Regions from separate parts of the Homo sapiens genome. Here regions 1, 3, 4, 5, 6 and 7 are each reported to be linked to region 2. Evidence: microRNA targets listed by miRTarBase, many of them from high-throughput screens and not tested one by one. Region 2 holds a microRNA gene; each other region holds the end of a gene's coding sequence.
Evidence for each region. Region 2 holds the annotated microRNA hsa-miR-6771-3p (CAAACCCCUGUCUACCCGCAG, at 3,148-3,168, opposite strand). A microRNA usually pairs through its seed, bases 2 to 8, with sites in the 3' UTR of a target mRNA and lowers its output. Matches are read on the target gene's strand: a 7mer-m8 pairs with bases 2 to 8, a 7mer-A1 pairs with bases 2 to 7 and ends in A, and an 8mer does both.

Region 1: the mRNA of PRRG3 is a reported target of hsa-miR-6771-3p. Seed matches in the 3' UTR shown: 7mer-m8 at 1,645-1,651, 7mer-m8 at 2,118-2,124 and 7mer-m8 at 2,474-2,480.
Region 3: miRTarBase lists SLC35F2 as a target of hsa-miR-6771-3p. Seed matches in the 3' UTR shown: 7mer-m8 at 1,818-1,824 and 7mer-m8 at 1,955-1,961.
Region 4: miRTarBase lists SKA1 as a target of hsa-miR-6771-3p. Seed matches in the 3' UTR shown: 7mer-m8 at 998-1,004 and 7mer-m8 at 1,360-1,366.
Region 5: the mRNA of ZNF345 is a reported target of hsa-miR-6771-3p. Seed matches in the 3' UTR shown: 7mer-m8 at 1,238-1,244.
Region 6: miRTarBase lists ZNF552 as a target of hsa-miR-6771-3p. Seed matches in the 3' UTR shown: 7mer-m8 at 1,669-1,675.
Region 7: the mRNA of WDR76 is a reported target of hsa-miR-6771-3p. Seed matches in the 3' UTR shown: 7mer-m8 at 3,393-3,399.

What each region holds. Positions count from the first base shown.
Region 1 is chrX:151,700,366-151,704,365 of GRCh38, forward strand. It overlaps PRRG3 (proline rich and Gla domain 3), which reads left to right. Exons shown (of 4, transcript NM_001372163.1): 4 at 141-4,000. The coding sequence ends at 668. Among named protein-coding and RNA genes, the nearest start is that of PRRG3, 6.9 kb to the left of the region's middle.
Region 2 is chr16:50,291,133-50,295,822 of GRCh38, reverse strand. It overlaps MIR6771 (microRNA 6771), which reads right to left and starts at 3,207; the gene lies at 3,148-3,207. ADCY7 (adenylate cyclase 7) reads right to left here. Exons shown (of 26, transcript NM_001114.5): 4 at 3,926-4,087; 5 at 2,998-3,147; 6 at 2,321-2,469; 7 at 1,072-1,183.
Region 3 is chr11:107,788,967-107,793,656 of GRCh38, reverse strand. SLC35F2 (solute carrier family 35 member F2) reads left to right here. Exons shown (of 8, transcript NM_017515.5): 8 at 857-2,666. The coding sequence ends at 1,042. Among named protein-coding and RNA genes, the nearest start is that of SLC35F2, 67 kb to the left of the region's middle. RefSeq lists a silencer at 2,873-3,082.
Region 4 is chr18:50,391,561-50,396,160 of GRCh38, forward strand. It overlaps SKA1 (spindle and kinetochore associated complex subunit 1), which reads left to right. Exons shown (of 7, transcript NM_145060.4): 7 at 539-2,608. The coding sequence ends at 687. Among named protein-coding and RNA genes, the nearest start is that of SKA1, 19 kb to the left of the region's middle.
Region 5 is chr19:36,877,790-36,882,463 of GRCh38, forward strand. ZNF345 (zinc finger protein 345) reads left to right here. Exons shown (of 3, transcript NM_001242472.2): 3 at 1-1,786. The coding sequence ends at 508. Among named protein-coding and RNA genes, the nearest start is that of ZNF345, 29 kb to the left of the region's middle. RefSeq lists an enhancer at 1-842.
Region 6 is chr19:57,804,430-57,809,053 of GRCh38, reverse strand. ZNF552 (zinc finger protein 552) reads left to right here. Exons shown (of 3, transcript NM_024762.3): 3 at 1-1,972. The coding sequence ends at 1,014. Among named protein-coding and RNA genes, the nearest start is that of ZNF552, 8.2 kb to the left of the region's middle.
Region 7 is chr15:43,865,526-43,870,215 of GRCh38, reverse strand. WDR76 (WD repeat domain 76) reads right to left here. Exons shown (of 13, transcript NM_024908.4): 13 at 1,804-4,088. The coding sequence ends at 3,824. Among named protein-coding and RNA genes, the nearest start is that of WDR76, 41 kb to the right of the region's middle.

The sequences.
Region 1 (4,000 bases), not on the chromosome of region 2:
CCTTGGTACATTCTGCTGCCTCTCTGGTAACTCTGTGAGACAAGTCAGATGGGGAAGGGTAGGAAGCACCAGAGTTACTGAAGGCCTCTGAGCCCACCTGGAGCTTGAGCTTCTCTTAAGTACCACTTTTTCTTTTGCAGATGGAGTTCTGGAAAGGGTACCCAAATGCAGTCTACTCTGTCCGAGACCCCTCGCAGAGCTCAGATGCCATGTATGTGGTGGTACCCCTTCTGGGGGTGGCACTGCTGATTGTCATCGCCTTGTTCATCATCTGGAGGTGCCAGCTGCAGAAAGCGACCCGTCACCACCCCTCCTATGCTCAGAACCGGTACCTAGCCAGTCGCGCCGGGCACACCCTCCCCCGGGTCATGGTGTACCGGGGTACTGTGCATAGCCAAGGGGAGCCTTCTGGGCACCGAGAGGCAGCGAACAGCCCCCAGGTGGTGCTGGGGCCCAGTCGGGGGGGCAGGACCACAGTCCGGCTAGAGAGCACCCTCTACCTCCCTGAGCTCTCTCTCTCCAGACTGTCCAGCACCACCCCTCCCCCCTCCTACGAGGAGGTGACTGCGCCCCAAGAGAGCAGCAGTGAGGAGGCCAGCGTGTCTTACAGTGACCCACCCCCAAAGTACGAGGAGATAGTGGCCGCCAACCCTGGCGCTGACAAGTAGTGGGACGTTTGTGCCCTGTCCTGGATGAACGCCTCTTTCCGAGGTCTCCTATTTTCTTTTTAACTTTTTAAAGACTGTGCCACCACAAAACAGCCTTAGCCTCCTTGTTGCCAAATAATTCCCTAACTGTGGAGTTTTAGGAAGTCAGTTGTCAGAGACAGGTGGGGAGGGTGGGGGTAGGGACCACGCATGAGTCGAAGCCCCCGGGAAGAGCCAAAGGCCAAAGTGCCCAACTCTTTGGGATGACCCCCAAGCCTCCAACATCCTGTCTTTCCATCAGGAACTGGCTTCTCTTATGCCAAAGGAATAACCCCATTGAGTTGATTGTGGCCAGAATGTCCACAGGCCTGGCCTGGGGGCTGTGGGACTGGCTGGAGGCCTGCCTGTGTCTAGAGCTCTGGGCCTCAGGGGTAAGGGAAGGAAGCCAGCCTTTCAGCACCCCTTACCCTCCACAGTTCTGTGATTTCTGTCCTTGCTTACATTTGGAGGACAGGGACAAGGACTGAGCAAAAACAAAATGAAAAAATCATGACAAATAAATAATTAACACAATAGAACAAAACTCTAGCACCCGGGCCGTTCATAGGAGGCCAAGGGAAATTTATCACATGGATCTGTGATGTCCGCCTCCCCTAAAACCTGTCCCCACACTCCTGGAAGGAGGACAGGGTGTGTGAAGGATGAGGGCCAGAGGGCTGGGTGGCAGAGTTTCCTCTTCCACATTGACCAAGGGGCCCACGTGGACTCTGCCATTCAGTTTCTAGTGTGCTTGTCTCTCCAGACATGTGGACCAGCTGTGTTCAAACCACTACCCACTGGCATGAGCCTACTTTTTGCGAATGGTGCATTGAAATTGAACTTCAGATTGAGGATTTCTCCTTAACGATGGTGCGCATCTCAGGAGAAGATCCTAAAGTGTCCCTTTTAAAACATTTATTTGTGGAGAAGCCCGTGGCCTGGGGTTGAAGGCCCATATGGGGTTTGCTCTGCTGTTGCCAGGTGCCAGTCTGTTTTCAGTGAGGCTTTGGACAGCAGTGGGGCAGAAGGCACCTGCCCTTTAACTGTCAGTGACCATGCTAGACACTGTTGATACCACCTCCCCCTACTTCCGTCTCCATCCTCCTGACCTCAACACCAAACCATTTCTCCTCTGTGGTGCTTTAAAAATTGTAGCAAATTTTTGTGTGGTGCAAGAATGCATGGCCTGCGTCTATTGGCAACCACAGCAATTTAAAATCCACTGAGCTGACAAGCTTTTTTCTGTCAAAATATCTCTCTAAGGCAGACATTGGGACTCATTTCCTTGAATGCAGCCCTGCCTTCAGGCCACAGAGGACTTCTGGAGGCTGCTCTAGCCCTGAGGACTTGCCCTGGGACGTGCTTCCAGTTAGAAGGCTTGTGTCCCTACCCCAGTGAGGCCACCAGCTTGGACCACTCCACCCTGTGGCTGGGGTTTTCCATCCTTCCCCCTACCTCACAGGCCCGTTGGAGGCTGACTGAGCAAATGCCTGCGAAGTGCTTGAATTGCCGGGGAGCCAGCGAGGTTTGCCTTAGGAAGAGTCTTCTAGAAAGGTGTAGGTTATAAGGGAGCAGTCTTAGCTGAGGCCCTCATATGCCTCTGATGTTGAGTCTCCACTTGGAGAGTCAATCTCCCGTCAGTTGACCCTTTCCATCCTCTCGTCCTCCCTTTCCAGAGCTCCCTGATGCCAGAGATGCTGGTGAATGCAGGTGACATTCTACCTTTCGTTTCCTTGTCTTTCCCTCCCCTGGGCCTTCAGCATTGCACTCCTGCCCTTCATCACAAAGGGGTTTTTGGCTTAAGAGGCCCCTGCTTTTTCCATGTTGGGGGACCTGGGGAAGCCTGAAGCTCGGGGCTAGCCCTGGCTCTCCCAGTATTTCTTCAAGTAGGTGCCAGAGTGTGACCTGGGAGCAGGTGAGAAGAAACTTATCCCAATATGTCTACTCAGTTAGCACAGAGCCAGGCATGAGCTCCACTGATCAGAGCCAAAGGGAGTTTGCCAAGAAATGCCCGCTGCCTTTGGCATCTGAGTTGCAGCTGGGTGGTAATGGGAGAGAGCAGGAAGAGGCCCAAGGCCTGGCCCATGGAGGGCAACATGTGTCCTTCAGGGGCTGAGGACAGGCCGTGGGAAGAGTCACAGGAGGTTGCTTAAGGCCTGTGATGTTCGGTTCAGATGCTTCATGGTGTTCTGCCAGGTGGGGTTGCACCACGGTCTCTGGGATGGTTTCTGCAGCACATTGTAGAAAAAAGACTGTACAGCACACAGCAGGCATCACTCCTTGCGATGCACACTTGGATTTTATGAATGCCCTGTACATATCTTTTCAAACTCTGTGTTTGTATGGAGGTGGATTTGATACAATGCTGACTCTTTCGTGGCTACATTTTTGCTGTTTTTGGACTTCTATGTGTGTGTGTGTGTGTGTGTGTGTGTGTATCTATGTGTGCACGTTGCCTTTTCTCATTGCTTATCTGAAACAATAGCCGGTGTGCAGCTATATTTGTACCAGGAGGGATCCGGTCTGAAAAGAGGAATGTCACCTCCCCTCGCAGGGCTGAGTAGCCTGATGACAGGGCCCTGAGCAAGGAAACGTGGCATTAACTATATTGGACACCCAACCCCCAAAGTTGTCACTGTTTGCCTCCTTGAAAAAGGCTTTGGAAGAAGACAAAGCAGCTCCATTCTGCAGGTCTCCACCCTATGCAACCCCCGCTCACACGCCCTTTTGGCATGGTGCCCCTGGCCCAGGCTTCTGTTCTGTGGGTGTCAGCAGCTGAAAGAAATCTGAGTACTCCTGGGCATGGTTTTTTTTTTTTTTTTTTTTTTTTTTTTTTTTTTTTTTTTTTTTTTTTTTTTTTTTGTGTGTGTGTGTGTGTGTGTGTGTGTGTGTGTGTGTGTGTATGGAAAGATGTGTGACTATTGACTTTGGGTATCGCGGGACTAGTTAATTAGATGTTTTTCATTTTTCAAAAAGAAAAGGTTTTAAAAATTTTCTTGAAATGTGACTGTCACTTGTTTTCAACCAAAAACTTTTTAAGATTTTTTAAAAGAAAAATCGAAATCCTGTCCCTCCCCCGCTTCCCATCGCCTCCGGTTTTCAAAATGAAAGCACAAGTGCAAGAGTGGGGTGCACAGGTGCCTGGCGTGTACACACCACCCACACAGCTGCGTCCAGCCCTGGCTGAGGGAGACGCAGTGCTGAGCAGTCAGCCCCGGGAGGCCTCTTTTTCAACTTCCAATCCCACTGCCATGAATGTGAATTCCTTAGGGTGCTTCCAAAAACAGGAGTCTGCCTGATCTGTTGGACATTGC
Region 2 (4,690 bases):
AGGCCCCACCCAGACTCAGGGCCTGGCACTTACCCTCTCTCAGGACCATTTGGTCCATTAATGGAAATGTTGCTTGCCTTACCCCCTCCCTGCCTGGCACGTGTCGAGCTCCTCAGCATCCTGGTCCTCGCCTCAGCCCTCATGTCCTTGCATGTCAGACCTTGTGCCCTTGTCCCCCTCACACCTCACACGCACACTGAGCACGTTCACCCCATGGACACACGGGGCTTTCTTTCTACTCCAGGCTTTGTCTATGCTGTTCCCCCTGCTAAGAACACTGTTCCCTTTCCTCCTCAGATATTTTTTCAAGTATCTCAGACTTTAAGGTGGGCCAGGAGTGGTGGCCCACGGCTGTAATCCCAGCACTTGGGAGGCCAAGAGGGGATGATCACTTGAGGTCAGGAGTTCGAGACCAGCCTGGCCTACATGGCGAAACCCCATTGCTACAAAAAAAAAAAAAAAAAAAAAAAAAAAAAATTAGCCAGGCGTGGTGGTGCATGCCTGTAGTCCCAGCTACTCAGGAGGCTGAGGCATGAGAATCACTTGAGCCTGGCAGGTCGAGGCTGCAGTGAGCAGTGATGGCACCACTGCACTCCAGCCTTCATGACAGAATGAGACTCCATCTCACAAAAACAAACAAACAAAACGTAAAAGTTTAATGTGCACATGATTCACCTCAGATCCTGTGAAAAGCAGCTTCTGGGTGAGGCTGGGCATTCCACAGTCCTCCTGAGCTACCAGGTGAGTGGAGGCTGCTAGCCTTGCCAGTGAGGATGGAGCCATCTCCTCCTCCTGAGCCCCCATCTGAGCTCCAGAGCCCCAGTATATCGCCCAGTGTGCACTGTCAGTCTCCCCACTGGCCTGTCACTCTGGGGGCACAGGATCCTGGCTGCCGTGGCCACCACTCACCCCCACCTTTACCATGGGGCGCTTGTGTTTGCTGGCTGGATGCTAAAATTCAGCCACGCCTCCCCATCCCAATTCCAGCAGGGCACTGAACACAGGACACCCCTGGGGTGTAATAGGCAGGGGAGGGGCCTGGCTTTGCCCATTGTAGGCCAGCGGGCTCACCTTGGCGATCTGGTCGAACTTGCCAAAGAGCTCATTCAGCACCACCACCAGCTCCTTGGGAGAACAGTCGCTGGCCAGCTGCGTGAAGCCCACGATGTCCGCATAGAGGATGCTGGGGATGGGGCAGGGTGGGAGGGAGTGTCAGAGCCAGGCTCCTAGACAGCAGCAGCAGGAGCACGCAGGACTGTCTGGAGCCCCAGGAGCCTGCCAGGCCTGAGCCCATTCACCCCCGTCCTTCCTCAGCCTCCATAGGGATGGGAGAGTCGCGCCCAGCCATAGAGACAGATTAAAGTTCCAGGGGCTTCACGTTAAAGCAGAAGGGAGCAAAATTCAGAGCCTACAGGAGCCCTCGGCCCCACCCCAGGCCCTATCACTGCAGACAGCCGAAGGGCACTCCTGCAGGCAGCCCGGAGCCTTCCCCTTTCCCATCCAATGTTCACCACAGCACAGACTTCAGAACTCCCTGGTGAGAGGCAGCTCCATGCTCCCTCAAGCCAACCTCCACACCCAGCACTTTACAGGCATCGAGTCCTCACACAGCCCTTGCCGAACTCCCGTTCTACAGATGCACAAACTGAGGCTCCAGGACATTGAGACTTGCTGGGAAGCCAAGAGCTGGCATCTGCACCAGTTCTCCCTGCTCCAAAGTCCTTAAGCTCATGGACCATCCACAGCCCAGAGAAAAGGCAGCGGGCCAGCCTTGGATGTAATGCTGGCGCTGCAGGCAGAGGACCCAGGGGGTCTCCTGGGACCCACATCTACACTCAACGGCACCCAGCACCCACATCGACACTTGACAAACTCAGGTCAGTGCATTCAAGTAAAATTTTGTGGTTCCCTGCAAATCAGCCAAAGACAGGTGTCAGAACCGGGGCACTCTTGGGCACCAAGGCCGGGGGGCTTTACCTCATTCTGGGGGTCCTGTGCTCCCTTGAGAACCATCTGAAAGGACCCCTTCCTTCACAAAAGCTATGTTTGCTCACACAGTTTTACAGTTTTGGGGGTGTGCTAGATCTTTCAATACCAATCTAAATTCTCTAATTTAAGAGCCCTGATCTGATCCTGCCCACAAGTGGGGGTTCTGAGACCCAGGGAGGGCCCCAGATTGACCTGGAACCATGGGGCCCTCTCCCAATCCCTATATGGGCAGGGGTCTGAGCCTCCAGATAGGGCGGGGAGGCCGCCTGGGGGCCGGTGGAACGGTGGGCCCAGTCCCCGGGATATGCTAATCACACGTCTCACCGCCCACCTGACATTCTGGTGCCTCTTGACGTAGAGGCTGTGGAAGTTGTTGTCAGGCATGCAGCGACGGTCACCATGCTCCTTGAGCCGTTCGATGATGGCCAGCTTCATGCCCATGGAGATGTGGGCCGGAAGCACTGACAGCAGCAGGTTCTCCTGGGTGTGGGTGGGCAGACCAGCAGAGGGACCAGCAAAGCGACCGGCGGAGGGACCAGCGGGGGACAGGCAGGGTAGCATCAGGTCCCAGACCTGGCCTCCTTGGCCCCCATCCTCCCTGCCTGCCTGCCCTGCCCACAATGTCCCCATCTCTGCTCTTGTCCTCCACCAACCCAACTGAGCATCTACCTCCCATGTACCCAGCAGCCCCCGGGACTCAGGGTGACTGAGAAAGGGCTCTTTCAGCTGGGGAGGCTAAGCTGATGGGTGAGCAGCCTGGAGCCACTACGGCCTTCTCTGCCGCCACCTGGGGACTGCGTGCCCAGGACTGAAACCACACAGAGGAAGGCAGAGTCAAGGGTCAGCAGGCTATGGTTACCCTGCTGGAGCCCAGGACTCACCGAGGTGAGACCTGCATGGGTGTCTGGCCATGCACCTCATGCACATGGCAGCATGAGTGTCTCATGTCCAACAGAAAGAGGAAGAGGACAGGGGTGTACAGGGTGAGGAGTGGGGGCCGGGTCCCACCTGCTGGCGCTTCTCGATGCGCAGCTTCCGGCGGATCTGGATGCACTTCACAGTGTAGGTGAAGAGGTCCCGGGATGCATCCTGCATTTGGTGCTTGTGGAAGGCGCCTGTCAGGTTCCCACACAGGAAGATGACTGCGTTGGCCAGCAGCTGCGGGTAGACAGGGGTTTGGCTCATTATGTGGCCTGGCCCATGCCCTCCCGAGGCACCAGACCCCTAGGCGGACTAGTGATGGCACCTCTTCCCATTCCCTGACCTTCAACCCACTGAGAATGGCACTCTTCCTGGGGCAGACAGGGAAACTGAGGCCCAGACAGGAGCTAGTCTCCTAGTGAGTCACTAGGACTGCAAGACCAGGACACCCAGGGAGGCAGAAGAGACCACCTCACAGAGCCCAGGGCCCGAGGGGCATGCGTGCTAAGGGCAGTCCCAGAGGGCACAGCGCCCAGCTGGCTGTGTGGAGGGCCAGCCTCTGCCTGGAGAGGACACCAGGCCTGGTCAGAGGGAAAACACTTCTCTAAACACCCAATAATTATGAACAGAAGATTCACTCATTCAACACAAAGACACAAGGCAGTGCCCTGGGGTACTCCCCCAAGCCCCGCCAGGACAGGGCCTTCGAGGGGAAACTTCGGCAATGGGACTCACCCCACGACAGTGTCCCTGAACCGGGAGGCAAGGCCTGAGGTCACGACCCTGAGGGCTGAGCCACAGGGGAGCCCTAGGCCAGCAAAGCAAAGGCCAGAGGGCAGGGCCACGCCTGGAGCCCAGCTTCCGAGCAGACGTGGAGAGGGCCCGGCCTTGGAGCGGGCTGTCTGCAAACACGGCTCCGGGGCCTTCGGGTCTGATTCACCCAGAGGGGGCCCCCCCATCTGCCCTTAGACCCAGACCACAAAACCTCCCCCAGAGGCCTTAGCCCATCCCTCACCTGCAGCCCCACCCGGACACTGGGTGTCGTGAAGCCTCCCATCAAAGAACCGAGCACCAGGAGGTGGGAGGCAGTGGAGACGGCCCCAACGGCGACAGCGCCCCGCATGCTGAAGGGCAGTAGTGTGTACACCACGAAGACAATGAACAGGAAGAAGGGCACCTGTGGATGCAGCCTGGTGAGCCCGGTGCCCCAAGATGCTGCCCCAGGCCGTACAGCCCCCGGAACCCTGCACCACAGCAGCCCACCCAGTGCGTATCCTTAGGTTGGCTCCCTCGCCACCCCCTGCGTGGGCAGACATACAAGGGAACAAGAAAAGCCATAATGTGTTTCTAGGGTGGGCCCGGCCACAAGGTTCATGGTTTCCTGTGCTGATCCACTGCCTGTGGCCACCCTAGGTGGGAGGCTCCATGCCCCGCGTGATCCAGGGAGCCCCCACCTGGTGCCCCTGCCACGTGGTTCTCGCTCAGCAGAAATGATTACCGGGAGGCTGAGGCACCCTCTCACCAGCTGCCTCCAGCAATGCGGCCCCACCCGCCCTCCCTCCACCCCCAGAGCTGCCCCACCATCCCCACCGGCTGGTCCTGCGTCCACCCCTCTGGGAGTGCTGCCCTCTCCCTCCCCTTCAGTCCACATGGTTTCCTTGGGCCTCACCCCACCCTGCCCCAGCCACAGGAGCTGTCATAGGACCCAGGCCCACTGGTCAGAGTGTGCTACCGCTTGGTGACAGCCTCTCTGGGACTGGGCCCATGACCACAGCCAGGC
Region 3 (4,690 bases), not on the chromosome of region 2:
GTCCACCATAAATTTTACTATGTAATACTTGCCCACAGAGACAAGATAATGTATTAAATTTTAGCAAAATGAATTTCATTGAATAGCACACATTGAGAGGCTGTTGAGCAGATGCCCCTTCTGTACTTCCACATTTCATCATAGTCTTACGTTCCTCTGCTTCATACCAATATTGTAAGCAGTGTCTAGGGTCTGAATGGGGCTCTCTGTGGTATCCATGATGACCTTTTATTTTCTCCACTAAGTGGGACTATATGCAGAGTGGGGTGTAGCTGGATTATGACAGAGAAAAGCAAAGGTCCATTTCTCCTAAAGATCCAAGGATCCAGGTGGCTTATGTGCCGGGTGCTGTTGGCAGAGTCCCATCATTCACCAGCATACATGGGAAGGTTTTGTGCATTAGCATCTCCTTAGGTAACTTTCAGAAAAAAGATCATGAGGCCAGGCATGGCGGCCCACGCCTGTAATCCCCCGCACTTTGGGAGCCTGAGGCGGGCGGATTGCTTGAGCTCAGGTGTTCGAGACCATCCTGGGCAACATGGAAAAACCCCGTCTCTACAGAAAACACAAAAATTGGCCGGGTGTGGTGGTGAGTGCCTGTGGTGTCAGCTACTCTGGAGGTTGAGGCGGGAGGATCACTGGAGCCTGGGAGGTGGAGGTTGCAGTGAGCCGAGATTGTGCCACTGCACTCCAGCCTGGGCCACAGAGCGAGACCCTGTCTTAAAAAGAAAGAAAGAAAGAAAGAAAGAAAATAAAAAGATTATGAGAGGGTAATCCTCGAAGCACAGTTGGCAAAAGCCAGCAGCAAAGATGTGTATGTGAGGGGCACAATTCACTGCCTGTTCTTCCCTTCTAGTTTTCAGGACTCTACATCCTGTCCTTCACTGTCATCATGGTGGGGTTTATCCTGTACTGCTCCACCCCTACTCGCACGGCCGAGCCGGCTGAAAGCAGCGTGCCTCCAGTCACCAGCATTGGGATTGACAACCTGGGGCTGAAGCTGGAGGAGAACCTCCAGGAGACCCACTCTGCTGTCTTGTAGCTGGAGAAGATGGCGCACCCATCCCCCACCAGGATAAAGCAGAGCCTGCTGCCTGCTGAGGGGACACTTGGGGAAATAGCAGACTCAGAATGGACACTCTACAACCCTGGGTTGGATCCAGTGGTTAGGTTTTAGAAAGGAACACTGAACAAAGTTCAAAAGTAGAAATACCAAAATAGAGCAGAAACCAAGCTAAGAGTGTGTTTCTGTGTTTGAGGACCAATATCTGTTCGTGTTGAGGAGATGAGGTGCAGACTCCACACTGGGGTCTTAGAGGCACCAGTGGGAAAGCAGGACTGGGGAGAGATCCAGGACTGAGCCAGCCTCAGGCCAGGGCGGGAAAGCAGGCTGTCCAGGCTGGGCTTGGTGGTCAGGAACAGGGGCAGCTCACGGTGGCTCTGGAGTACGTTTCCTCTGTCAGATGCTTCAAGGTTTTTTTTTTTTTTTTTTTTTGCTGAGGCAGTTATTGTCCACAGGCCTTTGGGTACAGATGAGGCCTTGGGGCTGACTGCATGTGGCAGAAAACGGGTGGGTCAGCCCTTGAAAAGTCTTGAGATATAAGTGTGAGTACTATACAAGCATTAAACTGGAGTGCAGTAAACCTAGGAACCTTCCCACAATTGTTTTTTTGTTTGTTTGAGATGCAGAGTCTAGAGTGCAGTGGTGCAAGCTCAGCTTACTGTAACCTCTGCCTCCTGGATTCAAGTGTTAGTAGCTGGGATTACAAAAGCATGTGGCCCCACGCCCAGCTAAGTTTTGTATTTTTAGTAGACATGGGGTTTCACCATGTTGCCCAGGCTGGTCTTGACCTCCCGACCTCAAGTGATCTGCCTGCCCCGACCTCCCAAAGTGCTGGGATTACAGGCTTGAGCCACCGTGCCAGGCCTGTTTTGTTTGTTTTTGTAGAGAGATGGGGTTTCGCCATGTTGCCCAGGCTAATCTCAAATTCCTGAGCTAAAGCGATCTGCCCACCTCGGCCTCCGAAAGTGCTAGGATTACAGATGTGAACCACTGTGCCTGGCCTGTTTGTTTGTTTGTTTAAAACATTTCTCCATCACTCATTCCAGGTCCCAGAGCAAACTCTCTCTGCTCTCGGAGCCTGTGACACTGGCTATGTGCTCCACAGTTTCAGTCCCAGGTCATACTCTCCAACAGTTTTCAGAGCTCCATATATATGTAGATGCCATCCTTTCTAAAAACTTCTCACGACCTCCTGGAATATTCCTATTGATCTCATTTTATTTAGCATCAGCTCAAGAAACTAAGTCTTAGTGCACAGTATCACAACAAAGAAAAAGCTTTGTTTTTATAACTGGTAAAAACAAGAAAAGATTCTCATCAAAATGAAAATATAAAATTAATCATTTCTCACCAAAGAGTATGCCTGGGAGCCTCCAGCTGTTAAAAGACAATGCTATTACTACTTCTTATCAAAAATCTGTAATGCCCTGTGATTTTTATGATACTTCTTCAATACAAAGTGTTAATATGTGTCATCAGTATAATAACAACCAACAAAATGCCACTTTCAGAAAACTGTATGTAAATTTTTTGTAACAATGTAAAAAAGAAATGGGGAGTAAGTGTTCACATCATTAAAAGGCTTTGAATTCATGGAAATACATCAACTGTGTGGTTTCTTTGATTAACCATTTCCCCTTGTGGATTTTTTTTCCAGTAAAGCCGTCCTTCAAAACCCTTGTGGATTTTTTTTTCTTCTTTTTTTTTTGTTTGAGTCTTGTCCTGTCGCCCAGGCTGGAGTGCAGTGGTGCCATCTCAGCTCACTGCAACCTCTGCCTCCTGGGTTCAGCAATTCTCCTACCTGGACTACAGGTATGCACCACCATGCCCAGCTAATTTTTGTATTTTTAGTAGGGTATCACCATGTTGGCCAGGCTGGTCTCGAACTGACCTCAAGTGATCCACCCACCTCAGCCTCCCAAAGTGCTGGGATTACAGGCATGAGCCACCACGCCTGGCCTCCTTGTGGATTTTGAATGACTTGACATATTCAGTATTTCTTCATATTCAATTTTTCAGAGTCGTATCCTCTGTGGGGTGAGGCAAGCCTGTCTATTTGGGGACTATGCTGGGATTCCAGGGAATTCAGAGCAAGCTTACCGATCATTTGCAGGAATAAACATTTTCCAATTCTGAATTACCACAATGAGTTTTTTTTTACTTTTTTGAGTGAAGTAACCTTTCATTTTCTGCAACCAATTAAAACTGCCTTTTCAATCGATGTTTGGTTTTTGCTCCCTAACATTAACAACTATGAGAGTGGGAAAGGTTATGTTAAAATGTTTGGCTCTTTTAGGAAGACTTTCAGTTTGATTAGCACACTGATGGTTTAGTTTTAAATTTGTGCTATTTTGCTCATTGTTTCATTTTATTTACACCAGCGACAGCCGCAGTCAGAACTGCAGTTGCTGATCCTGCAAGGTTGCTGTTTGGTGAGCAGGGTCATTCACAAAGTCTTTGGTTACATATTTGGGTGTTTAGGATACATATACACCAGGATGGACTTTAGAAAAAGGAAGTAGGCCGGGTGCACTGGCTCAAGCCTGTAATCCCAGCACTGTTACGTGCAGGTCTTTGTTCTTAGAGCTCCCAAGATGGTGGTGGGCCGCTCCCAAGATGGGGCAGGCCACACCCAAGATGGCAGCAAGCCTTTTGTTCTCTGACCTGGGGTTCTTGGCCTCAGTGGATTCCAAGGAATGGAACCTTGGGCCATGTGGTGAGTGTTAAGCTCTATTAGAAGCCGTGGGTCACGGAAGAGAACCGTGGAAACCAGCAACTAGTGTTCAGTTCGATTAGGATGAACCTGGGCACTTAGTCATGCAGAAACAATGGCGAGCCTTTAGCCTGATCAGGAGCAGCAATGGGCGCCTCGCTGGATCAGGAGCACAGTGGACACTCTGCCAGATCCGGAGGGGTGGAAGTCAATGGTGGGTCTGCAACGGCAGCAAACAGCAGTGGTGGACGGCTCGGCTGGAGCCGTAACAAACACGGACAAGAAGTGTAGCTGCAAGATTTAATAGAGTGAAAACAGAGCTCCCATACAATGGGAGGGGACCCAAAGGGGGTTGCCCGATCCGGTTCGAATGCCTGGGTTTATATCCCGATCATTGTCCCCTCCCCATGCTCTCAGGCGATATATGATTTGACTATTTCTTTACTGCCTACTTTTAGCCTAATTTGTATTTTAGTGAGCCCTTTTTACTACCTGATTGGGTGTGAGCTGAGTTACTAGCCCTGTGTTTAAAGGTGGGTGAGGTCACCTTCCCCAGCTAGGCTTAGGAATTCTTAGCCAAGGAAATCCAGCTAGTCCTGTTTCTCAGCACTTTGGGAAACTGAGGCAGGCAGATTACTTGAGGCTACGAGTTGGAGACCAGCTGGGTTAACATGCTGAAACCCTGTCTCTAAAAAACACAAAAATTAGCTGGGTGTGGTGGCATGCACCTGTAGTCCCATCTGCTCTGGAGGCCGAAGCTGGAGGATCACTTGAGCCTGGGAGGTCCAGGCCCCAGTGAGCCGAGATCATGCCACTGCACTCCAGCCTGGGCAACAGACCCTGTCTCAAAAAAAAAAAAAAAAAGAAAAAGAAAAAGGAGATAGCATTTTTTGAACCCTAGGAAACCATCCAAA
Region 4 (4,600 bases), not on the chromosome of region 2:
GCTCACAGTGTCTGTAGTGCTGAGCCTGAGAAACATTGCTTTAGAGTCTATTGTGAAACTATGCCCAATGTTTTAGGAAATTGAATAGTAATGATAATAGCTAGTCCTGTTGATATAGCTACTTACTGTATGGCAGAGAGTGTGCCAAGAGCTTCAATCCTTACAACACCCGTATCACTTACTGTTATTACTCCCAATTTGTAGACTAGGCAAAGAGAGCTTAACTTACTTGTCCAAGGTCATCCAGTTAAATGATAACACTGTTACGGGTTTTATTCTTATAACCACTATGTCACATTGCCTCTTGAAAAGTGAATTGTTCAAGCGATACCAACAGATAGCTAGTGACCTAATAAATATCATGCATGCAACTTCTGTTGATAGAATAATTATTATTTTAGCAAGAATACTAGTTCTTGGTTTTATTGGATACTAACAGTAAAAACGACTAATACCATTCATATTCACAACTTAATGTATTAAAGACTCTTTTGCAAGTTGGCCTTATAAAAATTAGCACTAATATCTTTATTTTTAGGTCGTTATTTTATAGTGGAAGCTGACATAAAGGAGTTCACAACTTTGAAAGCTGACAAGAAGTTTCACGTGTTACTGAATATTTTACGACACTGCCGGAGGCTATCAGAGGTCCGAGGGGGAGGACTTACTCGTTATGTTATAACCTGAGTCCCTTGTGAACTTTTGAACATACCAACAGGGTATAGAGTATAGAGGCTATTTCTATAATTTTCTTATATATAATTTTTTTAACTTTTAATCTTTTTTGTTTCCTTTTTTTTTTTTTTGAGACAGGATCTTGCTTTGTCACCCAGGGGCTTGCTTTGTCACGCAGGCTAGAGTGCAGTGGCGCAAACATGGCTCACTGCAGCCTCAACCTCCCAGGCTCAAGTGATCCTCCCACCTCAGCCCCCTGAATGGCTGGGACTACAAGCGTGCGCCACCATGCCTGGCTAATTTTTGTATTTTTTGGAGAGATGGGGTTTCACCATGTTGCCTAGGCTGGTCTTGAGCTCCTGAGCTCAAACAATCCACCCTCCTCAGCCTCCCAAAGTGCTGGGATTACAGGCTTGAGCCACCACACCTGACCTATTCTTGTTTCTTATAAAAATAAAACTTTTTTGGATAAAGCTTATTTCTTGTTTTTTTCTTTTTCTTTTTTTTTTTTTTTGAGACAGTCTCGCTCTTTCACCCAGGCCGGACTGCAGCGGCGCTATCTCGGCTCACTGCAAACTCTGCCTCCCAGGTTCACGCCATCCTCCTGCCTCAGCCTCCTGAGTAGCTGGGACTACAGGCACCTGCCACCACGCCCAGCTAATTTTTTGTATTTTTAGTAGAGATGGGGTTTCACCGTGTTAGCCAGGATGGTCTCGATCTCCTGACCTCATGATCCGCCCACCTCGGCCTCCCAAAGTGCTGGGATTACAGGCGTGAGCCACCGCGCCCGGCCAACTTATATATTTTCAAGATTCACCTCCTCTCACCAAATATTTAACTACCTGCTGAATACGCCTCTGTACTAGGCACATAATGGAACTAAAAAATGCTCATGTCCAGTTTTTGTGTTGAGTGAACAATGCTGCAGACCCTAATAAGATTGGGTACAGATCGGCATGCGCCTGTAGTCCCAGCTACTCAGGAGAATTGCTTGAACCTAGGAGGTGGAGGTTGCAGTGAGCCGAGATCGTGCCACTGCACTCCAGTCTGGGCAACAGAGCGAGACTCCATCTCAGAAAAAAAGAAAAAAAGACTGGGTACAGATGTGATATTGGAAGAAAAAGATCAAGCTGATGAGGTTAGGATACCCAGGCCCTTTGGACTTAAAGATCACTAGTGTCTAAATTCCATCGATGGCATTTCAGTCTATAGGTAAACTTCCTGGAAGCTGGATTTGGAGACAGTTTATCATCTGATTATTGGGCTTTCGTATAGGTCCTTAGGGAGCAGCTTACCTGAAATGCATTTAGTGTACACCAGTCTGTAAACTTCAACCTGTAATGAAAGTGTAATAAATGTACATTGAGTTGATGTGATAATGTGATATAATAAGAAATATATATTTGATCTTCCTATCTAGTTCCTTGTTCAGAGCTCCTAAAACCCTTGTAATTTCCAAAGTGATGGAGTACATCTTTTGTTCTAGTATTTGGTCTTTGACCCCAGTTCCTGACACAAAGCTCCTAAATTCCTTTAAATTTCCCAGTGATAGGAGAATTTTTTGTTCTAATGAGGTCACTCTTGATGGGCACCTGGATAACTCAGGATGGGGGCTGCTCACAAAGACCACATCATGATTGGAAGTTTCAAACTTTCAGTCTCCCACCTCCAGAGAGGGGAGAGGGGCTGGAGATTTGTGTCAATAATCCATCAGGCCTATGTCAACAAGACATAATCCGTTAACTATGGAGTTCAGGGAGCTTCAGGGTTGGCAAACATTTTGATGTGCCAGGAAGGTGACGCACTCCAGCTTTATGAAGTCAGCAAGTCCTGTGCTCAGGATGCTTCTGGACCTTGCCCCAGGTACCCCTTCATGTGGCTGTTGTTCATCTGTATCCTTTGTAGTAGCCTTAAAATAAACTGTTAAACACAAGTAAAGCATTTCCCTGAGTTCTGTATTGCCGTATCAAATTATCAAACCTGAGGAGGGGGTTGTGGGAACCCCCATGTGTAGCCATGTTGGACAGAAGTATGGGCAACCTGGGGACCTGCTAGTTGTGACTGGTGTTTGAAGTTGGGGATGGTTTTATGGGACTGAGCCCTTAAATCTGTGGGGTCTGCATCAACTCTAGGTATTTAGTGTCAGAATTCAATTAAATATAGGATACTCTGTTGGTGTCTAGAGAATTGGAAAATTGGTTGGGATGGGGAAAAAAACTCCACACATTTGGTGTCAGAAATATTATGTGAATGTAGTATAGAAGAAAACAGGCTTTTCCCTTGTTGGTGAAAAACATGATAAAATAATGTGTGGGTAGGTTGATAATAGTCAAGAAAAATGGGTAATGGGATTGTAAGAACTTAGCCATGTTTCTCTCAGGCACCTGGGGAGACTGGTCTGTCTATGTCTGTGCCATCTGCTTGGCAGGCTTGTCCCTGTAGCAGAGAAAAAATGTGTCTCACCAAGCCTGTGGCCTGGTTAACACCATCACTGTGATGAACACACAGACGCTGCATATTTACTGTTATCCTTTTGTTTTCCTTAATTTAAATACAGGCATGTTTAATTTTTCATGCCTCAACTTAAGTGAAAATAATGGCATTATTCTTTATTTTAAGTATTGTTTGATTTTTGATATGGTTTGGCTGTGCCCCTACCCAAATCTCACCTTGAATTGTAATAATCCCTATGTGTCAAGGGCAGGGCCAGGTGGAGATAATTGAATCACGGGGGTGGTTTTCCCCATGCTGTTCTCATGGTGTAATTAATGAGTCTCACGCGATCTGATAGTTTTATAAATGGGACTTCCCCTGCACAAGCTCTCTTGCCTGCTGCCATGTAAGACATGACTTGGCTCCTCATTTGCCTTCCGCCATGATTGTGAGGTCTCCCCAGCCATGAGGAACTGTGAGTCCATTAAACCTCTTTCCTTTATAAATTACCTATTCTTGGGTATGTCTTTATTAGCAGTGTGAGAACAGACTAATACAATTTTTCTTTTTCTCTTCTTCTCCTCCTTTTCCTCCTTCTCTTTCTTCTCCTCCTCCTTCTCTTCCTTTTCCTTCTCCCTCTCCTCTTCCTCCTTCTTCCCCTTCTCCTCCTCCTCCTCCTTCTTCTTCTTCGTCTTTGTCTTCTTCTTTGTCTTTATCTTCTTCTTCTTGCCAGAATCTCACTCTGATGTCCAGGCTGGAGTACAGTGGTGTGATATTGGTTCACTGCCTCCACCTCCCAGGTTGAAGCCATCCTCTCACATCAGCCTCCCAAACAGGTGCATGCCACCATGCCTGGCTTTTTTTTTTATTTTGTATTTTTTGTAGAGACAGAGTCTTGCTATGTTGCCCAGGCTAGTCTTGAACTCCCGGGCTAAAGCAATCACCCTCGGCCTCCCAAAGTGTCGGGATTATAGGCGTGAGCCACTGCACCCAGCCCATAGATGGTTTTAATAAGGATTCTGTGGTTATAAGAGTGTGAGATGTGCTTAGTTAAGTAAAGATAAGCAGATTTTATTATTTCATGACTTCTGAAGTCCTTCATCTTACCCATTTATTTTCTAAATCTCCAACAGAGACAGGCTGTGTAGTGGAGCACACATTCTACTTGTGGAGAGTTACTTCCATTACCTCTTTCGTTATTTCTGAGGAATACGTATTCATATCTCTGGGCATACTAATGCTCCATGAAATATGTTTTGGAAACATAAAGCAATCTGTTTTGCTTTATGACGTAAAGCAACCTGACATAAAGCAATCTGTTTTGAAACCCCACTCGTTTTTATTAATGAAATGTCATTACACAATCTTATTAGTAAATATATGTATGTAAAAGACATTTATTGAGGCAGTGTAATGGACTTTGGGGTGAGAAGGCTAACCAGAGTTCAAATCCTGGTTATGCTACTGACACGCAGTACAAGCTTCAGTTAGT
Region 5 (4,674 bases), not on the chromosome of region 2:
GAAAGCCTTTAGAAGTGGTTCAAAACTTATTCAGCATCAAAGAATGCATACTGGAGAGAAACCTTATGAATGTAAGGAATGTGGGAAGACCTTTAGTAGTGGTTCAGACCTTACTCAACATCACAGAATTCATACTGGTGAGAAACCCTATGAATGTAAGGAATGTGGGAAGGCCTTTGGTAGTGGCTCAAAACTTATCCAACACCAGCTAATCCATACTGGTGAAAGACCCTATGAATGTAAAGAATGTGGAAAGTCCTTTAGTAGTGGTTCAGCTCTTAATCGGCACCAGAGAATACACACTGGTGAGAAACCCTATGAATGTAAGGAGTGTGGGAAGGCTTTTTATAGTGGCTCAAGCCTTACTCAGCATCAGAGAATTCATACAGGTGAGAAACTTTATGAATGTAAGAACTGTGGGAAGGCTTATGGGAGGGATTCAGAGTTTCAGCAACATAAGAAAAGTCATAATGGTAAGAAACTCTGCGAATTGGAAACTATAAATTGAAATTATGTGCTGAAGGAAGGACTCTAAACATATGACTTAAGAAAATTCATAGTGGTGAAAATCTCTACAAATAGAACTAAGGTACAAATGCCTTACTTATGCTTCACAGGTTAGTCAGTCTAAGAATATTTATACAGGAAAAAAATCACCCCAAATAAAATAAATATTTGAAGATCCTTATCTATATTCATTCCTTCATTACTTTTGGAAAATTCTTACTTGTGAATGTTAAAAATGAAAAAAAAATCATTTATTATATTTTGCCTCAACTTTAAACATTGGAAAACTCATTTCTGGGTTAATCCTACTATATTTTTTCAATGGTCTTTTTTTTTTGTATTATACAGAATTACTGATTCATTGAAAAATTATTTTATTTATTGCAAGTCTAAATTTATCCTTTTTTTCTTTCCTGATTATCCTAACACCATTTATTCAATAACCTTGTCCATTTTCATATTTTTTTTATTGACTATTTGATGGTAAGTTACATTTTTATTCACATAAAGCTTGGATATCAGGTCAGTGTTTTTTTGTTTTTGTTTTTGTTTTTGTTTTTTTGAGATGGAGTCTCACTGTCACCAGGCTGGAGTGCAGTGGTGCAATCTCGGTTCACTGCAACCTCCACCTCCCGAGTTCAAGTGATTTTCCTGCCTCAGCTCCCCAGTAGCTGGGACTACAGGCGCCCGCCACCACGCCCAGCTAATTTTTTGTATTTTCATTAGAGATGGGGTTTCACCACGTTGGCCAGGATGGTCTCGATCTCTTGACCTCGTGATCCATCTGCCTCGGCCTCCCAACGTGCTGGAATTACAGGCATGAGCCACCATGCCTGGCCCAGTGTTTGTTTTTTAAATTTATATATATGTATCTATGTCTCATCCTGTTTATGGTCAATAACTGTTACTTTTAAGTATCCTTTAATACCTGTACCTTTTGTTTTAGAAGATTGTTTACTTTCCTTTTATAAAATTATACTCTCCATTTTAGCAAAACAGCTTTCCCTCATCATAATGTAGATAAAAAGAAAAAAAGGATATGGTTACCTGTAATCTTACCAATCATAGATAATCACTGTCAAACTTTTGGAGCAAATCCTTTAATACTATCTCTCATTGTTTTGGAAACAAGGTGTGATTATGCTATACTATAACCAGCCCTTAATATTTTTTGTCTGTAAATATGTTGTTACCATTTTATTGGCTTTATAGTATTCACCTGTCTTTATCAAACCCCAATTTTGTCAAATATTAAAAATTTTGCCATTATAAACACTTACCTTGATGGCCCCTTTTCAGTGTGTCTGATTTATTTATTTATTGTTCATTTCAGAGATAATGTATCAATTGCTTTTGCATATAAAAGATTTTTACATTACAGATAAAGCCGGCCTTTCCTTTGAGCAGCATTCCTGGCCTCAGTTCCTTTCCAATGTTAACCAATTTACTTATTCTTCCAGATCCTTTTATATGCATCTGTAACATACCTATGGTAATGTGGGTAGAATCAATACCTCAGAGCCTTATTGTGTGGATTCTATAATTGTGCCTATCACATAATAAATGCTTAGTGAATGTTACCCATCACTATTATCTTCTCAAGCTTCATCTTTATTATTTCTAGAAAAACTTTTAGCCATGATCCATACCTTACTCAACAACAAAGACCTCATAATGGAGAAAGACATTCATTTAAATGAATGTAGGGAAAATTTGATTGACATTCTTTCCTTGTTGAATAAGAATATTTGCTGCCAGGCACAGTGGCTCACACCTGTAATTTCAGCACTTTGGGAGGCCAAGGTGGGTGGATCACTTGAGGCCAGGAGCCTAGCCAACATGGTGAAACCCCATCTCTATTAAAAATACAAAAATTAGCCAGGCATGGTGGCGTGTGCCTGTAGTTCCAGCTACTCGGGAGTCTGAGGCATAAGGATTGCTTGAACCTGTGGAGGTTGCAGTGAACCAAGATTGCACCACTGAACTCCAACCTGGGTGACAGAGCAAGGCTCTGTCTCAGAACAAAATAAAAATAAATAAATAAAAAATTGTCCTACAGAAAAAATAATAAGATTATAAAGTGTGAGAAGACAAATACACTATAAAATTTGTACCAGGGTAGAAGTAAAAAAACTAGCAGTTTTCTCCATTGAAATCCAAATATTAATTCAGTACTCATCTGCATGATTCTTTGCTTAAAAATAAAATGCAGGCAGGCACAGTAACTCTTGCCTGAAATCTCAGCACTTTGGGAGGCTGAGGCAGGAGGATTGCTGGAAGCCTGGAGTTTGAGACCAGCCTGGGTAACATAGCAAGCCCCCATCTCTACAATAAAAGTTTTAAAAATGAGCCAGGCATGGTGGCCTCCAGCTACCAGAGGCTGAGGTGGGAGGATCAGTTGAGCCCAGGAATTCAAGGCCTCAGTGCACTATTATTGTGCCACTGCACTCCAGCCTGGAAAACAGAATAAGATCCTGTCTCTAAAAATAAATGAGTAAATTAACTAAAATCAAATACATTATTTTTTAAATAAGTGGCACTGAATAGATTACATAGCAAAACCTGTGAGGACCTGTAATATACAGAGGAAATTTTATAGCTCTAAATTCATTCATTTGTTAGAATGTTAAAGAAATTATAAATAAAGAAACCAAGCATATAACCCAAGAAGCTGGAGAAAGAATAACTACAACAAAAACCCTAAGGATAATGGGAGGGAAAAATAATTTTAGAATAAAAAAAGCTAGATCAATCACAACCTAATGTTTTGAAAACAAAAATAGTAGCAGTTCTCATAAATAAAGGTATATGAACATGAATGCAAAAGCGACATTACTCTAGAGACTTTACAGATTACAGGTTGAGCATGCTTAATTTGAAAATTCAATATCTGAAATGCTCCAAATTCCAAAACTTTTTGAGCTCAACATTATGCTCAAAGATAATTTCAGACTTCTGGATTAAGTATGCTCACCTGGTAAATATAATGCAAATATTCCAAAATCCAAAACACTTCTGGTCCCAAGCATTTTGAGGGATACTCAGCTTATGTTTATTACGATTACATGTAACCTTTTAATAATTATTTTGAAAATTGAACATTTTAGTAAAAGGATTTTAATCACCAGAACTGACTCAAAGTGGCATAGAAATGGGTATTATATAAGGGATATAAAGCAAAAACTATATCTAGGAAGGCTGGGGAAAAAAACCCTGTAGCCAAAGTCTCTTTTATACCCCCCAGTCAGGTCCCTTGAGTGAATATTCTGGCATTCAATCACATTTTGCATTGGAAAGAGCAAAAGATGAAAATATATCAGCATTAGTATATTTTATGTCTTTTTAATTTGAGGTAATTAGATTTTTTAATTTTTAAAAAGAATGGAATAGGAATCATTAAAAACAGACTAAAGTAACATGAAATCTTAAGATGCTACATATAAAATACATCACTTTAAATATGAAACTAATTTTTAAAGTCCTGCAGATTAATCTGTTGGAGATATATATTGAAACCCACTTTCAGAGACATTAAAATGCGGGGTAAAAAGTGCATTTTAGAACTGATAAACTACTTCATCAATGATTTTAATGGTTCCTTTTCTTTAGATTTTCAAATTCGTTGATATTGGCAAACAGAATTGGCTTTCAGTTTTCAGTCTCTGTATATATATTTGTATTTCTACTCATAGTTTTATTTTTAAACCACTTTATTCCTCTAAATTGATTTGAAGGAGTCCCATTCATTTTACTTGTTTTTTTTTTAAAAAAAACCTTATCTGGGTTTTCTTCATGCTTTTGACTATTTTTGTTTGCTTTTTCTATTTCAAAAATATATTTCACTATTTTCTTTTTATTTGTGTGTATTTCTGTTGAGTACATGTGCTTGGTTAATATATTTTCAGTCTCTTTTAAATTGGAAGCATTTAAGGCTACAAGATTTCCTTTGAATATTGCTGTATCTGGGGCCCATGGTTTTTTTTTCTTCTTGAGATGGAGTCTCGCTCTGTCACCAGGCTGGAGTGCAGTGGCGTGATCTCGGCTCACTGCAACCTCCGCCTCCCAGGTTCAAGTGATTCTCCTGCCTCAGCCTCCTGAGTAGCTGGGACTACAGGCATGCGCCACCACGCCTGGCTAATTTTTGTATTTTTTAGTAGAGACGGGGTT
Region 6 (4,624 bases), not on the chromosome of region 2:
TATATACAAAGAGAGACTCAGGTCAGGACTCCTATGGCAGGTGTGTCTCCCAAGAAGGCCCACCCCTGTGAGATGTGTGGCCCGATCTTGGGAGACATTTTGCATGTGGCAGATCATCAGGGAACACATCACAAGCAGAAACTGCACAGGTGTGAGGCCTGGGGGAATAAATTGTATGACAGTGGAAACTTTCATCAGCACCAGAATGAGCACATTGGAGAGAAACCCTACAGAGGGAGTGTTGAGGAGGCGTTGTTTGCGAAGAGGTGTAAGTTGCATGTGTCAGGGGAGTCATCTGTCTTCAGTGAGAGTGGGAAAGACTTTTTGCTCAGGTCAGGATTACTCCAGCAAGAGGCCACTCACACTGGGAAGTCAAACAGCAAAACTGAGTGTGTGTCTCTGTTTCATGGGGGAAAAAGCCATTACAGCTGTGGAGGATGCATGAAACATTTTAGCACCAAAGATATACTCAGTCAGCACGAGAGACTGCTCCCTACAGAAGAACCTTCTGTGTGGTGTGAATGTGGGAAATCCTCTAGCAAATATGACAGCTTCAGTAATCATCAAGGAGTTCACACTAGAGAAAAACCTTATACGTGTGGGATATGTGGGAAATTATTTAACAGTAAGTCCCACCTCCTTGTACACCAGAGAATTCACACTGGAGAGAAGCCATATGAGTGTGAGGTTTGTCAGAAATTTTTTAGGCACAAGTACCACCTCATTGCACACCAGAGAGTTCACACTGGAGAAAGGCCATATGAATGCAGTGATTGTGGGAAGTCATTTACCCACAGCTCTACATTCCGTGTTCATAAGAGAGTTCACACTGGTCAGAAGCCTTATGAGTGCAGTGAATGTGGGAAATCTTTTGCCGAAAGCTCCAGTCTCACTAAACACAGGAGAGTTCACACTGGAGAAAAGCCTTACGGGTGCAGTGAATGTGAAAAAAAATTTAGGCAAATCTCTTCACTTCGTCATCATCAGAGAGTTCACAAAAGAAAGGGCTTATGAGTGCAGTGAGTCCAGTCTCATTAAATATTGGAGAATACACACCTGAGTAAGATCCTGTGATTGCAGCAAATGTGGAAAATGTTTACCCAAAGGTCTGCTCTCCTTGGATATTGGAGAGTTCACACTAGAGAAGAGTCCTTACAAGTAAAATAAATTTGGGCAGTTTTGTAGCCACACCTCTGTATTCCTTCAGGATTATAGTTAACACTGAATGAAGGCCTTACTAGTGTGACAAATACAGGATATTTATCCAGAAGTCTGGCTGCATAACTCACAGGAGAGCTGTCATGTGGGAGGATTGCTACATGGGAGGATTTGCTTGAGCCTGGGAGGCAGAGGTTGCAGTGAGCCGAGATTGCAACACTGCAGTCCAGTCTGGACCACAGAGTGAGACCCTGTTTCAAAAATAAAATATATAAATGACATCCAATAAAGTATGCATATTTGAGCTGTAGGATAAGTCTTGAATTTTCTTTTTCTTTTTTTTGAGACAGCCTCGCTCTGTCACCCAGGCTGGAGTACAGTGGCATAATCTCGGCTCACTGCAAGCCCTGCCTCCTGGGTTCATGCCATTCTCCTGCCTCAGCCTCCCTAATAGCTGGGACTACAGGCAACCACCACCACTCCTACCTTTTTTGTATTTTTAGTAGAGATGGGGTTTCACCCTGTTAGCCAGGAAGTTCTCAATCTCCTGACCTCGTGATCTGCCCGCCTTGGCCTCTCAAAGTGTTGGGATTGCAGGCGTGAGCCACTGCTCCTGGCTTGAATTTTCTTATAATCCCATGAAACCATCATCAGAGTCACAATAATGAATTTATCTAATCTATCACCTTTGTATTCACCTGGAGCCTTTATAAAGTTTTTCTCTATGCAGACAACCATTGATTTACTCTGCTGTATAATACTTTCCATTTTCTAGAATTTTCTGACTGATGTAATAAAGTGTTTCCTCTTATAATCCCTGGGTGCTCTCCTGCATCATGCTTATTTTGATATCAATGTAGACATGAGTTAATTTGTTGTATATTGCTGAGAAGTATAGTCTGCCATGAAATGTCATTATATATTCATTCATCCGTTTATGGATATTTGAGTTGCTGCTTGTGTTTTTTTGTGTTTTTTTTTTTGAGGTGGAGTCTCACTCTGTCCCCCAGGCTGGAGTGCAGTGGGGCAATCTCAGGTCACTGCAAGCTCTGCCTTCCGGGTTCACGCCATTGTCCTGCCTCAGCCAGTCCTGTGGACTACAGGCGCCCGCAAACACGCCTGGCTAATTTTTTGTATTTTTAGTAGAGACAGGGTTTCACTGTGTTAGCCAGGATCGTCTCGATCTCCTGACCTTGTGATCCGCCCATCTCGGCCTCCCATAGTGCTAGCATTACAGGCATGAGCCATCGCGTGCGGCTGCTTTTTTTTTTTTTTTAAAGACTGTCGACCAGGTTGGAGTGCAGTGGCGTGATTTTGGCTCATTGCAACCTCTACCTCCCAGGTTCAAGCGATTCTCCCACCTGAGCCTCCCACATAGCTGGGATTACATGCATGAGCCACCATGCTGGCTGTTTTTTGATTTTTAGAAGAGATGGGGTTTTGCCGTGTTACCAGGTTCATCTCAGACTCCTGGCCTCAAATGATCTGCCTGCCTTGGACTCCCAAAGTGCTGGGATTACAGGCCTGAGTCGTGAGCCACTGCGCCTGTAATTGATTCTGAGGCCAGGCGTGGTGGCTCACGCCTGTAATCCCAGCACTTTGGGAGGCCAAGGTGGGTGGATCACTTGAGGTCAGGAGTTTGAGACCAGCCTGGCCAACATAGTGAAACGCCATCTCTACTAAAAATACAAAAATTAGCCAGGCGTGGTGGCACATGCCTGTAATCCCAGCTACTCAGGAGGCTGAGGCAGGAGAATCACTTGAACCCAGGCAACAGAGGTTACAGTGAGCTGAGATCACACCACTGCACTCCAGCCTAGGCGACAGTTAGACGCTGTCTCAAAAAAAATAAAACAAAAACATTTATTCTGAGATAATGCCAGTACCCAGTGTGAAACTATTCCTGCAGTCACTGGAAAATAACCACTTTCTTGTAAGGAGATGAAATTTTGGAGCTCAGATGCCATGTTTATGCTGTTATTCAGATGCCTTTTTTATCTGTGCTGTAATTGTGAAAGTTGTAGCCACTGATGTGTACCACAAAGGCATTGGTTAAGTTGCTCTTCCTTTGAGATAGATGTCAATGTGAAAAAAGAAATTGAGGGCAGGGCGTGGTGGCTCACGCCTGTAAACCCAGCACTTTGGGAGGCCGAGGCAGGTGGATCACGACGTCGGGAGATCGAGATCATCCTGACTAACATGGTGAAACGCCTTCTATAGGGAAAATACAAAAAATTAGCCAGGCGTGGTGGTGGGTGCCTGTAGTTTCAGCTACTCCAGAGGCTGAGGCAGGAGAATGGCGTGAACCCAGGAGGCAGAGCTTGCATTGAGCGGCAATTGGCGATCGCACCACTGCACTCCAGCCTGGGCGACAGAGCGAGACTCCGTCTCAAAAAAAAAAAAAAATTGAGTGCACTTTAGCATATGAATTAAGAAACATTGATATAGTGATCCTCATAGTAACTAAAAAGTAAAGTAGAGGTTCCTTTTCAAAGACTTTCCTCCCTAATTAGGAATAAATGGTAACTTCTCTTATAAGCAAAATTTATTCAAAGACCTGTGCTAACATTCTTAAATATCTGCTAGCCGTCATAAAGAAATCAACGTACTTTATGTTCTTAGCTCCCACAATTTAGCCTAAATATTTGCCTTGGCATGCTTATACTGGTCCAAGCAAGCATTAGGTCATAGCCTGTTCCTCTTCCTTATTTAAAAGTGTTTTCACCTTTCTCAGCATTCCACAAGTTACTTCCTCCTTCCTTTGTTCTCATCTACCTTTGCTTCTTTTAAAAGGTTCTAAATTGGCTGGGCGGTGGTGGGGGGTGGTGGCTCACGCCTGTAATCCCAGCACTTTGGGAGGCCAAAGCGGGCGGGTAACGAGGTCAGGATATCAAGACCATGTGGCTAACACATGAAACCCCGTCTCTAGGAAAAATACAAAAAATTAGCCAGGCATAGTGGCGGGAGCCTGTAGTCCCAGCTACTTGGGAGGCTGAAGCAGAAGAATGGCGTGAACCCGGGAGGTGGAGCTTGCAGTAAGCTGAGAACCTGCCACTGCACTCCAGCCTGGGCGACAGAGTGAGACTCCATCAAAAAAAAAAAAAAAATTCTAAGTTGCTCGCCAATCGGGACAAATACAGAATGTGAGGCCCCATCCCAGCCAGTGGAAACCGGACATAGCAGTAGGGTGGACGCGTCAGGTTATAAATGACCCTATCTCCTTAGTTGTGTACTCTCGTGCCAAAACTGCTGGCTGAGTGTACCCTTTCTGCAGGAAGTAAAAATGGCCTTACTAAATAAATTTATGTTCAAGTGCTATTTCTTTATGGCACCGGAGAACAAGCATTTCAAACAATTTGGTGGCAATCCGTACGGGGATACATTCTTCTCTAGGGGCGGTCTCCAGTCCTCTCTCATGGGGTAGCGCTCCCCTACTTCATTGCAAGGTCCTCATAGGTAAGAAATT
Region 7 (4,690 bases), not on the chromosome of region 2:
TTTTTCTGATGAGGAAAACCAAGAAGACTAAGTGATTTTCCCAAGATTACATAGTGGTAGAGTCCAAACTAGAACCCAGATTGTCCACCTTCTGGTCTGCTGTTCTTACTCAAGCCTGGAGTAAGTGGGAGCACAGAAAATACTTTCTAAGAAGGAACTACAATGATACCACCACCACATATTTACAAAATATATCCCTATAGCATTATCTCATCTGATTATGTAACCATCACTCTGTGGCTACGGAATTGGAAATGGTCTTCTAAATTCCATGAGGATAAGAGGTGATAATGGGGGCTTGGTCCACTGTGCTAGCTTCTTACCTAATCTTTGTCTTTTCAATTCTGCCTGCCCTCCACTCTCCCATTTCTGTTGCCAGATCATCCTCCTAAACACCAATCAGGCTATGTTACCTCCAAATTTCAGAGGTACCCACTACCTAAAAAATGCTATCTAGCACCCTATCCCCAGCGGAATTTTTTGTTTTTATGACATAAGATTTTGCTTGAAGTGATCCAAAGAGTAAAAAGCACAAGAAACACTGGACCTGGGTGGCTTCCCGTGGCCCTGCCGATTCACAGCAGCCTCCCTTCTGCTGACAGCTTATCAAGAACTACCTGTGCACACACCCCTGTAGGACTCTAGTCCCTACTCCCTCTGCTTTGGGTTCCTCTAGCACAATCTAGCTCCTCTGCACCTGAACACACTTTTGGTTTTAGCTCATGAACAGGCTTCCTCTTCAGACCCCTACGACCTGCTGATGGAATGGAGTAAAACAAGCAAAGCACCCTTTTAATAAATTTCCTCTTGCCCAGTTTCCATTTTGGGGAAAATGTATCATAAAATGTTTTGTTCTTCAGCTCCGTGTAAGTGTACTAAATGTTATCTTCCTCATAAATTCTACCTTTTCATTTGAAAATCCAAGTATTTACAGCCAAATAAGTCAAAATACAATCTGCTGTCTTGTTATTTCTAGCCATCAACACCCTACTAAAAAGCAGGGGGAAATGTACTAAGTCAGAAAGGACCGCCCAATAGGACATTGAAGTTTTTGGAATCTGAAGTTAGAGGGCATATATTTCCTCTTCTCAGATTGATTCAGAAGGCATGTGTGTCTTCTCCCCCACCCTACCCCATGTACTGTACATTAGCTGAAAGGATTTAAATCCTTGTATCCATAGCCCTAAGGCTCCCTGTTTTCCTGGAGAACTCCCCTTGCAAAATCTTCTTGGTGGAAAGGAAGCTCAAAGACCAGAATACTAAAATAGGACTTAAGCAACTCAGATTCTATTAATTCCTAATCATTTGTGGTCTCTCCTAGTCTGACAAAGTCTCTGACAACCAAAAATGAGAATTGTCTGCTCCTTCCTTAAAAGTTACATAACAAAAGCCTGGGTATCTTAAAAAAAAAAAAAAAAAAAAACTCAAGCGGAATTCAGAGCTTAAGAGATATCATAAAGGCCAAACTTACAGAAAAGGCTTATCCCGAAGGAGGCAATCATAATACACACATAATTACAGAAGCCACACAGCTGTAGGCAAGTCTGTGGGAGAAGTACCTTTCACTACAGATTACAGTGTAAGAATGTCCCAAGGGAGACAATTTTCTTTTATGTGCTGTCTAGATTTAAACAATTACTCCATTAGAAAGCTTATCACCAATAAAAAAAAAAAAAAGTCCCTACTCATTCTCCTTCCTTCCTGCACTGCCTGAAGATATAACTCTATAAAGTATAACTGAATATAAATAGCACTGTTTATGAAGCCACAATGGCAAAAGAAACCACAAAAGTGAGGAACATCAAGAATTTGCTAACATTTATTGACGAGCCCAGGCAATTACTGCCAAGTATTCAAAGCTTAAATGATGGTACTAATTTGATTGAGAGTAGTTTTCAGCATCTTTAAAAACAAAAACAAAAACAATTCCCGTAGAACTAACCACTCTAGAACCCATGAGATTAATTGGTATAGAAATGAAAAAGGGAGCCTAAAGCCTTTACGATGTTTCCTGAACAGTTTAATTATAACTCAACCTCACCTAGCTTTTCTTTCCCTTTATAAATTAACATTTCCATCTCACTTGTCAATTCTTCTACTTATATCAACTAGAAAATAGAGAACTATTGCTTATAAACACCTAAACCTATTAAAAAACTAAACCTTTTTACACTTAGATTACAGAGAAGAAAATTATTTAGAAATTGGTTTTCAAGGAAATTGTATATCACTATATTTCTCTGATATACAATTATGGGAAAATATTTCCTCTTAGAATTCAAACATATTGCCAAAGCCATTTACAAGTCTTTCAGTATTTGGCAATGAAGAATAATGAAAAAAGTTGGATAGATGTCACACAGTAATATTAGTAACTGATTTGGCAGCTCCCCTCCCAACAACAAACACATTGAAATTACCATAACTTCTGAAAAGAAAACATTTTCATAAAATACCAAAAGTGGTGAGTATTTCATAATATTCCCCCAAATACAAGTAAGAATGAAGGTATTCACTTAACAGGCTATTGAATTTCCTTCGGACAGTTTAAAGATCGGGACAGGTAAGCCTGGGGCCTTCTTCATTCTAAGCAGTAGCTTTAACTTCTTTATCCATTACCCATGGTACTATAGTAATAAAATATATATATATATATATTTTACATCAGAATACACATAAACATATATACCTAACAAATATATATGCATATGTAACTAAGTTTTACCAAACAATACTTACTCAAATATATTTTCTGTTCTTTACAAATTCTTTCCTTTTCATTTTTTTCAACACCAGTCATTGTCATCTAACTTGATTTCATGTGAAGAGCAAAAACCCAGTCTGAAAAACACAGGTCTGAGGCAATCTTATACTGGAATGCCGGGACCAGGGCAGATCCCAACCCGGTGCTTGGGAGTCCTGCCTGTGTCTCAGGAGCCATCTAGAGTAAAGGCAAAGTACAGACAGACCCAGACCCCGCCCTGGGTAACCAAAGCTGCTCAGCAATTATCTTGGCATTTCACGTAAGACTTAACCTACAGGCAGGGGGCAAAAAAAGTTCTCAGTTAAAAAAATCAAGTTTTAAAATCACTGAGTTACATTACCTTTCCGGGTCCCCTTCCAGTGTATGAGTCTAGAAATAAGTATTCATTATAAACTATAAAATAAGCCACAAATTACTATAGAATCAAAACTGTATCATTAGATCACAAAAACTTTAATAGTCAAAGCTTTGTAATTTATAATGTTAGAATTTCTCAACATACTGTCTTGATTACAAGTTCTGATGGCCAGGCATGGTGGCTCACGCCTGTAATTCCAGCACTTTTGGAGGCCGAGGCGGGCAGATCACCTGAGGTCAGGAGCTCGAGACCAGCCTGGCCAACATGATGAAACCCCATCTCTACTAAAAATACAAAAAAATAGCCAGGCGTGGTGGCAGGTGCCTGTAATCCCAGCTACTTAGGAGTCTGAGGCAGGAGAATCGCTTGAACCTGGGAGGCGGAGGTTGCGGTGAGCCAAGATCGCGCTATTGCACTCCAGCCTGGGCAACAAGAGCAAAACTCCATCTCAAAAAAAAAAAAAAAAAAAAAGTCCTGACGGCACCTCAGCCTCCCCTCAAATTCCCTCCCCGTCCTGCAGAAGCAACCCTCCAAGACTTCTCCCTTACTAAAAGTACACTCTTCTTATAGTCTTATTAATAAAACAATGTTATAATTGCTAAATGTAACACATTACCACATAAACACACTAAGGCACGCCGATTACTAGGCTCCTTAGACAGTGGTCAATTTGAACAAATTGATGTTCCTAAACCAAAAACTCAGCAGCTTTTTTCATTCATAAAAACATGTATCTTCCCGCTGGAATTACCTCCAGCCAAAATATACCGAGTTGGGTGCATGGCATTGATGGAACACACAGAGACAAGGTATTCTCCACCAAACGAATGCACCCTCTTTCCTGTCTCATGGAAGATTTCTACCCGTCGTGGATGGGCCATGCTGCCAACTATGACACAGTCTTCTTGTTTAGGATCCCACATGGCTTGGAACCTGGTCAGCCATCGCCCAGTGAAAGTGTTGTGCCTAGTGAGGAAAACAATATATTTTTTAAATGAAGTAAGGTTAAATAAGGTAGCATTGGGCAGAGGGTAAAGACGGCATTGCTCCTAAATGCTAGTTTTCTCTGCCAAGTTTCTTCTCATTAAGTTACTGAGTTACCACCAACCTTACCTCATCCTTACAGGACTGAACCTCTGGACAGAGACGATATCCTCCTCATCTAAAAATCTCCCAAAATAAAACATATGGAGCCCTTTATAGTTCCCAAAAGCAAAAACAGAAGTACTGCCCTTTTAGTCTTTTTGCCTTAATATCACTAACAATCCTTTTTCATTAAAGTATGGACTACACATTTCCCACTGCCACTTAAATGACCCCATCATTAATGAAAATTCTTACCCCCTAGAATAGTCACCCTACATAAATTTTTTAAAAATATACATAATATGGCCAGGCACAGTGGCCCAAGCCTGTCATCCCAGCACTTTGGGAGGCCGAGGCAGGTGGAACACCTGAGGTCAGGAGTTCGAGACCAGCCTGTCCAACACGGCGAAACCCAGTCTACTAAAAACACAAAAATTGGCCAGGTACAGTGGCTCACACCTGTAATCCCAGCACTTTGGGAG